2 linked regions of the Homo sapiens genome follow. The protein of the gene in region 1 purifies or fractionates together with the protein of each later gene. This does not show direct contact. Each region holds a gene or a part of one and is shown in the gene's direction. Other genes may lie near its edges.

Region 1 (7,954 bases):
ATACACATACAGCTGGGCCGGTGGGACCACAGACCCCAGGCTGCCTGTCCAGGTCATGGAAGCCCAGTGATGGACAGGGCTCTGGGGATCTCAGAGCTAAGACTCCCTAGAAAAGCACACGCAAGACTGTAAAGAGGCTGCAAACAAACAAACGGGGTGGGGGGTGGCCAGCACTGCTCAGTGGTTGAGGGGCAGGTGCTGAGTCAGGGCCAGGAGGACAGGGCTGGGGGGCCTGGACTGAGTGGGTCAGGTGTAGGGGGAGGCTGCAGTTGGGAAAAGCTGAGAAAGGGTTAAAGTGAAGATGGGTGTTATCTGTTGATTTCATTAATTTATGCAATCTTTGCCTCCATTACCCCAAGCAATTGAGAGTTGGCTGTCACTGCATTTTCAGGCTGCGAAATGTTCGTCTAAGCCCATTTTCATTTGGCAAAACCAGCCCTAACGTTTGAGCAAACTGAAGTCCACAAAAAAACTCCCAGCTGTGTAGCAGCCTGCCCTCAGGGCCCCTGTCCCTCAGTCCCCAACATTAGTAAAGACGGTACAGATAGGGAAACTGAGGATCAGAGAAGCACAAGTGTCTGCTAAGGAATATGAAAGAAGTTGGGCAAAAAGCCAGCTACAACCCTTTCCCCCAGCCCCAGAAAGAGAGTTAATTTTTATCTTCGATTGCATCTAACATCCTTCCTTAAGGAACACCTAAGAGCATTTTGTTGTGGCCCCTGCCCTGTACAGCCAGGGCAGCCGTGGTTCTGAAGCTGAGCTCCCTCCCACCCCAAATTGTCTCTGGTCCTTAATTCCAGCCCCTGCAATATGGTGCAAGGTTTACCCGCAGCTGACTCATGCTCTGGCCAGCATCTCTGCTGCCCCTCACAGAAGCAGCGGCAGCAGCTCTGAGTCGTTTGAGGATCTGGGGGATTCCAGCAAAGCCACCATTTGGGATCAGGGTTAGGCTTTTAGCTTGGAGCCCATCTTTTTGGTATCTAAATGCCGTACACCCTTGCTGAAATTTTCCGGACAAATGCCTCCCTTCTCATGGGCCCTTGGTATGTCCCCTCCCCACCAAGTTGACAAAGGCAGCCAGCTTGGGGATGGCCAGAGAGTCTGGGGTCCCAGAGAAGACATAGCCCTCCCTCTCCCTTTTTGCCCATCTTTGAGGCTGTCGTGGCCACAGCTGCTGTCCCAGCAGAGACCCCCAAGCAGCCTTTTCCTCAGAGCAGCTTAATTCACCCCTGTCTTGGGGTTGGAGGCTCAGGAGGGCTGATCCAGGATTGGCATAGCAGGGAGAGCTGCAGGGACAAGCTGGGGGTGGTCGCCAGCTTTTTAGCTTAAATTTAAGATTCTGAGTGACAGGAGAGTCGGGTGCAGAGAATAAGGAGCCTGACGCGGAGGCGCCACGTGCTAATGCCTTGCCGGTGCCGTCCCGTAAAGATAAATCCTCTTTATGTGTCCTTGCACCAAGCCGGGCTTCCATGGAACACCACGGGGTAGTCCATCAACACAACGTTCAGGCTCTTCCTCCTTGATTGATTGCAGTCTCCCCTCCACGAGGGTGTGGGTCTCTCTGAGAGGGGGAAAAAATACGCACATGTGTGGCCTCAGCACGGGGGATTTCCCCTCCCCCCACCCCCTCCAGCCTGCCTTAGCTTGCTGTGTCTCTCACTGGCCCTGGCTTTCTGTTTGGCAGGTACAGCAGCTCAAATTATAGAAAATCAAAGCTGAAGAGTCCCTCAGAGATTGGCCAGGGAAAGACCCTCTTTTTATAAGTAGGGAAACTGAGGCCCAGAATGGGTAGGAGCTGAACTCTGCTGCCACATGGCAGCAGGCCGGATACAGGGCAGGACAGGGGTCCCTTCCTGGCCCCACTGGGGAGCTGGGGTCTCCATCATCAGAGAGCCCCTGACTCAGGCCCTTGTGTTCAGCTCATCCCTGGCTTGCTGAACCTGAATAATGAAGTGTGCGTGATGGAAGGTGTTAAAAGATGGTGGGAATATACCAGTGCTCATGGAAACCTGTGCTGATAGGAGAGCGCTCAATAGTTCTAATTTCCCTGGCTTTAAAAGATGAAGCCTTTTTACCAGGGACCCCTTGAGTTCAGAGCCTGAGTGCAGAAAGAGAGACCACAGGGACACGTGGTAGTGCTGGGGTTAACAGGTTTCTTGATTCCTGACGGAGGGGGGTCGTTACATCTCCATCCCCCCCACTGCCCCTCTTTGATGGAAAAGTATGAAGAGCTGGTGGTTTTTCTGAGGGTTGGGCTGTATTCATCCCCCGGCTGGCCAGGACCCCTCCCCTAACAGGAGAGGGTGGAGATGCAGTCTTGTCTGGTGGAGACAGGCCTTAGGGAATCTCAGCTAGGCACGCTGTTGCAGGGAGGGGCATGATGTCCACAGTGAACGTCACGGACATGTCGCTGGATATGGGGTGACCTGGTGCCAGGCAAAGGGAACAGCTATCCTGGCCTGAATATCAGTGGCCACGACTTTCTGATCTGTGACCTTAGGCAAGGAAACCCCTTCAGCTTCCTGAGCCTCAGCTTACTCACTTCATGGGTTTTTTTGAGGGGGCTCCCTAAACCCTCTTACTCCAGACCCCACTCGGTGGCCATAGAGCCATTTTAAAGCCCACTGGGGCCCGCATCACGCTCGTGTATGGAGAGGAAGCTAAGTTCTCGTCTTCCCCGTCACCCCGCAGATGTTCGGGCCTGCTCCTCGGCCCCCTGTGCCAACAACAGGACCTGCGTGAGCCTGGACGATGGCCTCTATGAATGCTCCTGTGCCCCCGGGTACTCGGGAAAGGACTGCCAGAAAAAGGACGGGCCCTGTGTGATCAACGGGTAAATATCCTTCCTGTGTGTGATCTAATGAATGCTGCTTTTCATGCGGCCACCAAAGACCCTTTCAGCCTAACCCTGCTGGACCTGTCGTCTGACAAAAGATGAAGTAAGCGCTCATCCTGGCAGCCCCGTAGGGGACCGCCCTGGATGGGAGTATTCACGGGGGAATGTGTCATTGCCATAATTTTTTCAAATGATCCTGAAGGCGATTTCATATTCCCCTGATGTTCTCAAGTCCCGATGCGTGTGAGTGACAGTCGATCGGAATGATGAACTGACACTCGGAGCTGCGTAATTTTCTAAAGGCAACGTAGTAAAAGATTGGAGCTCCGCGGGGCTGAGGCTGTTTGTGAAACCCACTTGCTGTATCTCAGGGGGTGGTTTTGGGGAACTGGTGGGCTCTGCAATTGGATTTTCTGGGATGTCTGTGGAGGGAGTTGCCAGGCTGAGAGGTGAAGAGATTGGGCTTCTGCCAGCACGAGAGGAGGTGGGCCAGCTGTCGGCTATCCTCAGTGGGGAAGGGGGCTTTGGGACTCCTGGGCAGCGGACATAACAGACAGAGTGGCCACTGTCTTCACTTGGACCTCCCTGAACAATGCTTCCCAGCAGCTCAGCCTCTGCCCACCCATTATCTCTTTGGCGGCCCTGAGCCATCCCTCCCCGCTGGATGGGGCTTAGCCTGAAGCCAAGGGAGATCTTGACAGAGGCAGGGTCCGAATGTAAGAATCCAAACTTGAACCCAGTCCTGGGCCTGTAGTTGGGGGGCAGGGGTGTCCCTTTCCTCTGAAGAAACAGAAGCTAACATGCAAATAAGCTTATCTTGACCGGACATCGCAGGGTGGCACAGAGACCCCAGTAGTCTGTAAGAGCTGTAAACAGACATTAACGGGGCTTCCAAAGATCAGTCTTCAGACGGGGTCAGAGTGGGGGCTGGTGAAGACTGAACTCCATTTCTGCTTATTAGCAGGAAGGAGAAAAACAGAGCGAGACCTTTAAAATATTTTGCTTTTCTCGCGAATGGACTTAAACCAGTGTGTCAAAATAGAGCCTAAGGCCCTTGAAATTCCTTCAGAGCCCAGCTCCCATGCAGCCCACACCCTGAAGCAGCAGTGCTGATTTCTTGTGTTTACTGCCCCTTCTTCCCCGGAGTTTTGCCATTTATCGGATGACAAAGGGCTCGCTCGTTTAAAAGCACTTACATTAAATGCTCCTTGTACTCCACTTTGAGCAAACAGCTTTGGTTTGCAAGCTGCACTTGGGTGAATGGACCACTATTAAACAGCCTGGTACAGACGCTGGCTTGTGCCACCGTAGACAGACCTCGTATTGCTTTCTCTTTGAGAGTCCCCAAGCGCTTCCTGCACAATAGCCTGTGGATCCACACCGCTAATAATAATAATAATAATAATGAGGGTTGGCGGCAACAGTGGACATAGGCATGAAGGACGACAGCGGGTCCCGGGATAGAGTGAGGGGCGCCCCTTGCTTGGTTCTTCTGCCCCAGCAGTCCAGGGATGGAGCTAAGGGAAGGGGGCTTGCTCCAGTCCTGGGCTGTCACTGACTTTTCCTCTCCTAGCCTCAGTTTCCCCAGTTGGCTAGTGACTAACCGGTTGGAGACTAACCTCTGGTTGGAGAGGTGCAGTAAGAGGTGGGAGAGGACGTGGGCATCCTGGCATGGGAGGTCGGGTGTGTCCCAGGTTAGCATCGAGATGGGGGTGAGGTGGGCACCCACCCACCCACCCCCAGAGCTACTGGTGAGCTTCTCGCAGACAGGGGTCACGGCCCCGGGCACCTCTCTGTGCCTCCCTGGCTGGCGTTCCCTCCCTCGCTCCCTCATTCACCTGATGTGTTTTAAGCACCTGCCCCTTAGTCAGGCCAGGGACCTTCTGCCCTGAGCCCCGTGCCCTGCAGCGCTGTTGTAGCCTAGCCCCTGAGGCCGTTTACTATGTCCCTGTTGTGTTGCAGCTCCCCCTGCCAGCACGGAGGCACCTGCGTGGATGATGAGGGCCGGGCCTCCCATGCCTCCTGCCTGTGCCCCCCTGGCTTCTCAGGCAATTTCTGCGAGATCGTGGCCAACAGCTGCACCCCCAACCCATGCGAGAACGACGGCGTCTGCACTGACATTGGGGGCGACTTCCGCTGCCGGTGCCCAGCCGGCTTCATCGACAAGACCTGCAGCCGCCCGGTGACCAACTGCGCCAGCAGCCCGTGCCAGAACGGGGGCACCTGCCTGCAGCACACCCAGGTGAGCTACGAGTGTCTGTGCAAGCCCGAGTTCACAGGTCTCACCTGTGTCAAGAAGCGCGCGCTGAGCCCCCAGCAGGTCACCCGTCTGCCCAGCGGCTATGGGCTGGCCTACCGCCTGACCCCTGGGGTGCACGAGCTGCCGGTGCAGCAGCCGGAGCACCGCATCCTGAAGGTGTCCATGAAAGAGCTCAACAAGAAAACCCCTCTCCTCACCGAGGGCCAGGCCATCTGCTTCACCATCCTGGGCGTGCTCACCAGCCTGGTGGTGCTGGGCACTGTGGGTATCGTCTTCCTCAACAAGTGCGAGACCTGGGTGTCCAACCTGCGCTACAACCACATGCTGCGGAAGAAGAAGAACCTGCTGCTTCAGTACAACAGCGGGGAGGACCTGGCCGTCAACATCATCTTCCCCGAGAAGATCGACATGACCACCTTCAGCAAGGAGGCCGGCGACGAGGAGATCTAAGCAGCGTTCCCACAGCCCCCTCTAGATTCTTGGAGTTCCGCAGAGCTTACTATACGCGGTCTGTCCTAATCTTTGTGGTGTTCGCTATCTCTTGTGTCAAATCTGGTGAACGCTACGCTTACATATATTGTCTTTGTGCTGCTGTGTGACAAACGCAATGCAAAAACAATCCTCTTTCTCTCTCTTAATGCATGATACAGAATAATAATAAGAATTTCATCTTTAAATGAGTAAGAGAAATAAGTATGTTATTCTAAAATCTAAACTCAAATGAAATTTCAAAAAAGACCAAAAAAAAACAAGGCAACAGAACCAGGGCTCAGTGCCGACGCCCCTACCCTGGGGGTCTCGGCCACATGGTCCTCGTGAAACCGTTACGAGTGCTGTACATGACCACCCACTGTGCAAAGAGCTACGATTGCTTTCGTTCGTTAATTCTCACACACCACATCCGACTCGCACTCACATCCAGCTCAACATCGCTACCTTTAGATCTTTCCGATTGATTTGAGATTTAGCGGAGTGCAGCGGCTGTGTGTCAGTCAGAGAGAGCCCCAGGTTGGCTGCTGGGGGGCCGGGCCTCTGTGCCAGCCCTGCCACTAACTCGCTGTGTGATCCTTGGCGAGTCCCTATCCCAATCCTGGGCCCACTTTCTCGCCCCTCTCGAGGGAGGGGTTTGAACACCGACCACCATGGTCCTCTCTGGCTCTAAAACTCTGAATTAGGAACGAGGGGGTATGAACCAAAACACTTCCTGACCCCAACAATTGGGATCTGATGAAGACGAATTCTCATCCTGGGATCCGAAAGGTTTTGGCCTATCCTGGATGAACGCTTGATGTTGAAATTTATCCTAACTGTGTTTCTCAAAGTGGGGAGCCTCCTGGCCCACTTCCCTTTTGGGAAAAAATAGCCCCTTTGAGTCATAATGTGCCATCTGGAGTTGCCACTTAGGCAGCCAGCCCTCCCCCACCCCTCTTTGCCCACCCAGAACCCCAACACTATACCTGCCTCTACCCTATAGAGACATCCCTTGAGACTTGAATGTACTTTGAGCCGCAAGTGCCCCTGGCAGAATCTGAGCAGCAACACAGCCCTCACCAAGGTTTTCACAGGGATTAGTGGAAATTGTCACTTGTGGGGCGCTTACTAGTTTTGTGGCAAATGTGGTCCAAGACCTGGCCCACACAGCCATGGGTTTACATTTGTGTTGCTGAGTTAATAATCCTCAGATCTCAAAAGACCTAGCCAGCTTCTGAATTTTGAATTTGACTTTTTTTTTTTTTTTAACAAAGAGCATCTATCTTTTTTGCAAAAATAGAAAGAAATGGGACAGAGCTCTGTTTAGCTTTTCAGCTTTTGGGGTTGGACAGCTAAACAGCCCTTGGGTACCAGATAGGAATATTTTGCTTCTTAGATTATTTGGATAAGAATCTATACTCTTAGCTTTATTGAGCATTGCCTGCCGTGTTTACCTTGCTCCAGGTGTTTATTTCTAAGTCATCATCACCTTCGTCATCTACAGTCAGTCACATCAGTCACCCACACACAACTCACAGTCACCCATCCATTGGTCACCTGCGCCATCGTCATGACACAATATCGACCTCATCACCTCATCGTCCTCCAGCCACTACCCAAGCCCCCTCATCCTGACTCAAAGCCCGACCAGCATCTGCCCAAACTCCCAACACCCCACTCTCCCCACCAAGCCATTGGTCTCCTCACTCCCGGTCCTTTGTCATCCTGATTCCAAGCCCCGCCCCACCCTCACCGCCTCCTCCGCATCATCTGCACTCTGCAGAGCCCCTCCTACCCGCCTCTGTCCCCACCAGGCCCCTCCCTACCGTCAGCCCTGAGTCCCACAGCACGCGTCCCCAGCCCCTCCCAGCCTCACCCCAAAAACCCTGTCACCCCACCGACCACCATCATCACTGGCAAGCCCCTTCCCCTTCTCCAGCTCCCGTCCCCACTACCCCTCCCGTCCCCCAATCCTTCCCCTCCTGTTAGCCCACCCCTCCTTTCCTATCACCCCCACCTTTCCCTTCCCATTCTCCCCACCCTTCCCCTCCGATCCCACCACCCTTCCCTTCCGATCCCCGTCATCCTTCCCCTCTGATCCCCCACCCTTCCCCTCCTGTCCTCCCCAGCCCTCCCTTCCTATCACCCTCACCCTTCCCCTCCCGTTCTCCCCACCCTTCCCCTCCTGTCTCCACCAGCCCTCCCTTCCTATCACCCCCACCCTTCTCCTCCCTTCCCTCACCCCAAACCCCTGGGTCCTCCACCCCAATCTCTGACAACCGCCCCAAGTCCCTCTTCCTTCCCCACGAAGTCATTCATAAGTCACCATCTCATCTCATTTTGAGTTTGTTTTAAGAAATAAAAAAATTAAAAAGACAAAAAAAAGA
Region 2 (7,691 bases), on another chromosome or scaffold:
ATTCCTGCCTCTAATTTAGCCTTCCCACTTCTGCCAGTTTGTTCTTTCTAACAACATAGCTCTGATCATGTCATATCCTTCCTCAAAACCTTTATGGCATTTTCATTAACTATTAGAATTCCTGTCCTAGTTTCGAGGCCTCTTCACCACCTGGCCCCATCCTACATTTTTGGTTCTATCCTCTAACATTTCCTTTTATACCCCCTGACCCTGGCGTTCCAGCCACATTGAACTTGCTGTCTTGAGGAGATGTCCTTGTCTCAGTGGCATTGCTCATACTTGGAATTGTTCTTTTCCACACCTCTCAGGCTCCAAATCTTCATCTTTTGAGTTCCTGTTCAAATGCTCCCATCTCTGTTGCAGGTCCCTGCAACCCCTGACTGTAACTCTCCTTAACTTCCATGATTCTTTCTCGGAGCTCTTGTCACATTCATTGCTTTATGCTTTTTGTTTTTTGGGTACATGATGTATTTAACTTCATGTTCTGAGTCCTAGGGAGTTCTTCCTAAGCACTTAGCAAATATGTGTTGTAGGCAATTAGTAGCTATATATGATCAGTAGACTCCACGGGGGAATAATAAGCGGATTAAGAGTTGACAGGTCCCTAGGGACTGAGAGTGCGGGGAAAGCACAGGCGTAAAGCAGGTGTCTTAACACTGGCTTTAGAAGATCTAGAAAACTAGTAACCAAGAGCTTTTAACATGGTTCTTGTTAAGATGTGAAGAGGTAAGATAACTAATTTGAGTGGCTATTGTATGCCAGTCACCGGTCTAGGTATTTTATGTATATTCACTCATTTGAACTCTGGCCAGATGACATTCTTCCCTTCTGTAATATTACCCCTTGACCTCTTTTTTTTTTTTTTTTTTTTTTTTTTTGGAGATGGAGTTTTCGCTTTTGTTGCCCAGGCTAGAGTGCAACGATGCAATCTCGGCTCACGGTAACCTCCGCCTCCCGGGTTCAAGCAATTCTCCTGCCTCAGCTTCCGGAGTAGCTGGGATTACAGGCATGCACCACCATGCCCGGCTAATTTTGTATTTTTAGTGGAGACGGGGTTTCTTCATGTTGGTCAGGCTCATCTTAAACTCCTGACTTATGGTGATCTGCCCGCCTTGGCCTCCCAAAGTGCTAGGATTACAGGCATGAGCCACTGTGCCCAGCCCCGTTGACTTCTTGTTACACTTAGAATAAAATACAAAGTCAGGTGGTGGCTCGCGCATTTAATCCCAGGACTTCGGGAGGCCGGGGCAGGAGGATCACTTGAGCCTGAGAGTTCAAGACCAGTCTGGGCAACATAGTGACACACCCCATCTCTAATTAAAAAAAACAAAACAAGACTCCATAAGTAGCCCTACGGGACCCCAGACTCACACTGTACGACTTCCTCACCTTTCCATCTTCTCTGACCAGCTCCTTACCTCTGCTCCCTCCTCTAAAGCTTTTTGCCCATGAATCCCAAATTTATGTTTTTTCATTTCAGCTTTAAAACCCTACCCTGTTATGATAACAATAATGGAGTACATTGCCCTTGTGTGGTTCTTCATACTTTTTTTTTTTTTTTTGAGATGGAGTTTCGCTCTTGTTGCCCAGGCTGGAGTGCAATGGTGCCATCTCAGCTCACTGCCATCTCCGCCCCCCACTGGGTTCAAGCGATTCTCCTGCCTTGGCCTCCGGAGCAGCTGGGATTACAGGCACACACTAACATGTCCAGCTAATTTTTCTATTTTTAGCAGAGATGGGGTTTCACCACGTTGGCCAAACTGGTCTCAAACTCCTGACCTCAGGTGATCCATCTGCCTCGGCCTCCTAAAGTGCTAGGATTACAGGCCACCATGCCCAGCTCTTCATAATTTTTCAAAGCACATTCTTCTTATTTCGTTTGATCCTATTTCAGTCCACAATTTTCCACATACCTTTTCTCAAAAATAAGAGTATAGAAGAGTTGGGTGCAGTGGCTCACACCTGTAATCCCAGCACTTTGGGAGTCTGAGGCAGGCGGATCACTTGAGACCAGCCTGGCTAATATGGTGAAACGCTGTCTCTAATAAAAATACAAAAAATTAGCCAGGTGTGGTGGCAGGTGTCTGTAATCGCAGCTACAGGCTCCTACTGAGGCGGGAGAATCACTTGAACCTGGGTGGTGGAGGTTGCGGTGAGCCGAGCTTGCGCCACTGCACTCCAGCCTGGGCGACAGTGCGAAACTCCATCTCAAAAAAAAAAAAAAAAAAGTATAGAGGGATTGAAATGCCAAGAAAACTTGACAGTTTATCAAATAACATCTTTGCCATAAATCTTAATGCCAGTTGTGGGACTGGCCTGTGGCTCCTTTAAGCCTTGGAGTTGTAACAGAAAGTTTTCTTCAGATAGTTTTGTTAATCACACTGTTTAAAATGTGCTATGAAATTTCTTGGATCTTTGGAGAGAAACAAGATACTGTTATAATAATTACTGTGGAGATGTCACTGGAAAGGGGATCCAGACCCCAAGAGAGGGTTCTTGGACCTCGTGCAAGAAATAATTCAGATTGAGTCCATAGAGTAAAGTGAGTGTAAGTTTATTAAGTAAAGAAACAAAAGAATGGTTACTCCATAGGCAGAGCAGTAGCTTGGACTGCTCGACTGATAATACTATAATTATTTATTCATTATATGCTAAACAAGGGGTGGATTATTCATGAGTTTTCCAGGAAAGGGGTGGGCAATTCCCGGAAATGAGAGTTCCTCCCCATTTCAGGCCATATAGGGTAACTACCTGACGTTGCCATGGCATTTGTAAATTGTCATGGCGCTGGTGGGAGTGTCTTTTAGCATGCATGCTAATGTATTATAACTAGTGCATAATGAGAAATAAGGACAGCCAGAGCTCACTTTTGTCACCATCTTGGTTTTGATGGGTTTTGGCCGGCGTCTTTACCATCACCTGTTTTATCGGCATGGTCTTTGCGACCTGTACCTTGCACCGACCTCCTATCTCATCCTGTGACTTAGAAGGCCTAACCTCCTGGAAGTGCAGCCCAGTGGGTCTTAGCCACATTTTACCAAGCCCCTGTTCATAATGGAGTCGCTTTGGTTCAGATGCCTTTGACGGAGAAGGTAACTTTTCACTATATATTCTTTGTACAGTTCAGGTGTTTGGTTAAACACATGCTTGTAGTATCTGTTTAAATTAGTTATATGTATATGTATACTCTGGGAAGTGGCTCTTCTCATTATTACAATTTTTTTCGAAAAGCAATCAGCTTTTATTTGACAATTTGGAAAATACAGGAAGAAAAAAAGTTATTCCGGCCAGGCACGGTGCCTCACGCCTATAATCCTAGCACTTTGGGAGGCCGAGGCGGGTGGATCACGAGATCAGGAGTTCAAGACCAGCCTGACCAAGACGGTGAAACCCCATCTCTACTAAAAATACAAAAATTAGCCGGGTGTGGTGGCAGGCACTTGTAACCCCAGCTACTCGAGAGGCTGAGGCAGGAGAATCGCTTGAACCTGGCAGGTGGAGGTTGTAGTGAGCCGAGATCGTGCCACTACACTCCAGCCTGGGTGACAGAGTGAGACTCCGTCTCAAAAAAAAAAGAAAAAAAGTTACTTCGAATCCTACAATAATCCTGAAATAACCAATTGGGATTGTCATTTAAAAATGAACTTTTTTTTTTCTTCCCCTGAGACAGGGTCTCACTCTTTCACCCAGGCTGGAGGGCAGTGGCACGATCTCAGCTCACTGGAACCTCTGCCTCCCTGGTTGAAGTGATTCTCCTGCCTCAGCCTCCTGAATAGCTGGGATTACAGGCATCCACCACCATGCCCAACTAATTTGCATTTTAAGAAATAGGGTTTCACCATGTTGGCCAGGCTGGTCTCGAACTCCTAATCTCAAGTAATCCACCCACCTTGGCTTCCCAAAGTGGTGGGATTACAGGTGTGAGCCACCGTGCCGGGCCAAAAATAAACTCTTGAATGGATGTTCTGTAAAACATTTACACTTCCTTTAAACAGGTATTTCCAAGTATGTGGATTTTTGTTTATTTGGTTTTGAGGGAAGGTCTTACTATGTTGCTCAGGTTGGAGTGCAGTGGCGCATCAGCTCACTGTAGCCTCAAACTCCTGGGCTCAGGCGATCCTCCCACCTCAGCCTCCTGAGTAGCTGGGACTACAGGCATGCACCACTGTGCCTGGCTCATTTTCTTGTTTGTTGAGATGGGGTCTCACTGTGTTGCCCAGGCTTGTCTTGAACTCCTGGGCTCAACTGATCTTCCCACCTCAGCCTCCCAAAGTGCTGGGATTACAGACATGAGCCACTGTGTTCAACCCAAATATGATTTTTGTGGTAGGATATGCCATTAGTTAGTGTTGTTAGTAAGAGGCTTTTCTCTGTGTATCTTCACTCCATTTGAGAAGAGTAAAACATAGAACTGTGCCATAAGTTTCTGAACTTAGAATAGTAAAGAAGTAACAAGCCAGTCTTGGCCTGGCCCAGTGATGCGCACCTGTAGGCCCAGCTACTTGGAAGGCAGAGGTGGGAGGATTGCTTGAGCCCAGGAGTTTGAGGCCAGCCTGGGCAATATAGACACCTTGTCTCTCAGCAGACAACAACCCAGTCTTAGCTGGTGCCTCACTTAAACTCTGCAATCCTTGCTACCCCAGCCCCATCAAAGTTAATATGTGTGTGTATTGTCCAGCAGTGACAGGAAGAATAAAGGAAATAGAAATGAAGAGGTAGAATGATCAGGATTTTGCAGTTGGTTGAGTGTGCAGGATAAAGATGGTAAACTCAGATGATCAAGTTTCGTATATGGACAGGAGACTTGTAGAGGTTAGGTTTTGGAACCTAAATTCCTGGATTCAAATCCCATCTCTACAGCTTGGTAGTTGTTTGTTCCTGGGCAGTGTTTTTTAACCTCTGAGCCTCAGTTTGCTATGTATAACATGGGAATAATTTAGTACCCACTTCGTTAGGTTATTGCAGGGCTTAAGAGAGATTCCACATAAAGCACTTAGCATAGTGCCTGAATGTTTTTCATTAATTATTAATAGCGAGGCCATTTTTTAAATTAGAGAACAAATAAGGAGGGCAGAAGTGGGAGATGTTAAAGAAGGTGATTGTCATTTAGAGGAGCTGAGTTTAAAGTAGCCAAGGGCAGTACTCAGAAGACAGGACTACTGGCCTGGCCTGGCCTGGCCTGGCCTGGAAAGGGTTATTGCAGAAGGATGATCCTGGATCCACTATGTAGCTTTGCATTCATTCTCTGAAACTGCTTCCTAGATGGCTTCAAAGCTCTCAAAGCTCCACTAGTTTGAACCTGTAAAATGTTTGATTAACTGAGACAACTTGGGTTGCTTACCTTTAGCTCTAGAGTGTAGCTGACTCACTGGAAAGTTTTTGTGCTTTTTCAACCACTGGCGCCAGGGCTGATGCCTGTGTTTGTGTGTGTTGTTCACTGCTCTATGGTGCCTGGGCCAGGGGGAATGAGGTAAAATCCTGCTGTTGTCTTCACTCCAAGCCTTGTGCACTTGGCTGCAACTGAATGGGCTGGCAGCATTTCTGCCTTGGGAATGTTTATCTGCTCCCTCCATGGGTGGGGCTTAGTGTTGAGAGTCAAGCCACTGAAGAAGTTGCCTGTGGCCAGCCTGACTCCATGTGGTCAGTGTAATTTTCTATTATAAGGATTGCATCCTGGGGTTACTTAAATTCTTTTTTTTTTTTTTTTTTCTTGTTGCAGATCATCAATGCTGTGGTACTGTTGATTTTATTGAGTGCCCTGGCTGATCCGGATCAGTATAACTTTTCAAGTTCTGAACTGGGAGGTGACTTTGAGTTCATGGATGATGCCAGTAAGTAGTAGATATTTGGGTATTTTCAAGGGCAGGGAATCTGACTGCCAGCACTTCCTATTAAATTACAAATATAGACTCGTGAGTTCATTTGAGCTGATATATAACTTGTCATTGCAAATCAACGAATATTTGTGTGCGTCTAACATTCTGTCTTCTAGGTGCAAGAGTCTAAATAAGATCTATTTTCATCTTATGTTAACTTACCCACTTAAAAATGATTGCATTATCATAGACTTTCTACCCTGGGCCTTTTGGCCTTTTTTGAGAGGAAGGGGTATAAATGCCAGGAAGGAAGGTGAAAAGGCTTGTGCTTATCTCCTTGTGTCTTCTATTATGTTTCAGTATTTATTTTTATTCTAGGAGTGATCCTTTTCCATTCTAGAAATGATGTTGCAGATTATTTGGGGGAATTTAGGGCCTTTTCCCAGTGAATGGAAATATGTACAGGGATGTGGATGTGGGGTAAGCAGGGAGGAAGCTAGGCTCCCAGCTTGAAGATCACTGCAGCCTCATCATTTTATAATCATTATGCCGAGTCCATGCCAAAGGAGAGGAGTAGTGCTGTGCATAATCTCCAGCAGAAGATAGTACAGATTTATTTCTCATTGGCTTCGGAGAACTTCAAGTGAGTTTTTCTTAAAAAGTGTTGGAGCAAAGTAAGAGAGGAGAGAGTGGCTCAACATGCAGTTTTAGAGATCGGAAGCATTCGAAAGACATGGTGAGGGCTCTTTGTTTCTCCAAGTAAGAAAAAGCTGTTCAGTGGTTTTAACTAAATGCATGAACTGATATATGCATTTAAGATCCCTTTTGCTGCTGAGTAGGGTACTGGGTGTGTGAGCACAGAGCCTGGGAGAGTGGTATTGGGGATACCACCTAGGCTGCACTGGGGATAGAGAACAGGGAAGGATTTGGCAACTTGCTGTTTTGGGCAGCGAAGGAGACGGAGGAATCAAAGATGACTTCTGCTTTCCAGTTTTAGGAGATGACCTGCATCTTAACTGAGCTGAGAAAGTCCGGAGTCAGGAGGTGGGAACAGACCTGGGGGAGAAAAATAGACTTTAATTTCAGTAACTAGCTGAGCACAGTTGTTTGGAATTGATATGGTTTGGCTGTGTCCCCACCCAAATCTCGAATTGTATCTCCTAGAATTCCCCTGTATTGTGGGAGGGACCCAGGGGGAGGTAATTGAATTGTGGGAGCTGCTCTTTCCCTTGCTATTCTTGTGATAGTGAGTAAGTCTCATGAGATTGAGGCCGAGGCTGGCAGATCAGCTGAGGCCAGGAGTTCGAGACCAGCCTGGCCAAGGTGACAATACCTCATCTCTACTAAAAATAGAAAAATTAGCCCAGTGTGGTGGTGAGTGCCTGTAATCCCAGCTACTTGGGAGGCTGAGGCAGGAGAATTGCTTGAACCCCAGGTGGCGGAGGTTGCAGTGAGCCGAGATCGCGCCAGTGCACTTCAGCCTGGGCAACAGGTCACTTTTGCTTTTTCTTCATTCTGTCTTGTCACCGCCATGTAAGAAGTCCCTTTCACCCTTTGCCATGATTCTGAGGCCTCCCCAGCCATGTGGAACTGTAAGTCCAGTTAAACCTCTTTTTCTTCCCAGTCTCGGGTATGTCTTTATCAGCAGCATGAAAACAGACTAATACAGGTGTAGGCTCCGAAGCCAGAAGAGGTCAGTTTGAGTTCTGACACCGCCGTGTGTTGAAGATGCTAAACTTGAGCTAGTGACTTATCATTGTGTGCCTCAATTTCCCCCTCTGCAAGATAGGAGTGACTTTATAACCACATGATTTAAACGATAGAAAGTAATTACAGACTGGCCACGGTGGCTCACACCTGTAATCCCAGCATTTT

Evidence for each region. Proteins that work in one complex are often made in the same cells at the same time.
Region 2: the proteins of DLK1 (region 1) and LAPTM4B purify together in Homo sapiens (affinity purification with mass spectrometry; 4 studies listed by BioGRID and IntAct, with this or other methods). This does not show direct contact.

What each region holds. Positions count from the first base shown.
Region 1 is NC_000014.9:100,729,351-100,737,304, forward strand, and holds part of DLK1 (protein delta homolog 1 isoform 1 preproprotein), read left to right. Parts: intron 1-2,691; coding exon 2,692-2,833; intron 2,834-4,798; coding exon 4,799-5,546; 3' UTR 5,547-7,954. UniProt on the Homo sapiens protein: May have a role in neuroendocrine differentiation.
Region 2 is NC_000008.11:97,799,634-97,807,324, forward strand, and holds part of LAPTM4B (lysosomal-associated transmembrane protein 4B), read left to right. Parts: intron 1-5,719; coding exon 5,720-5,831; intron 5,832-7,691. UniProt on the Homo sapiens protein: Required for optimal lysosomal function. Blocks EGF-stimulated EGFR intraluminal sorting and degradation.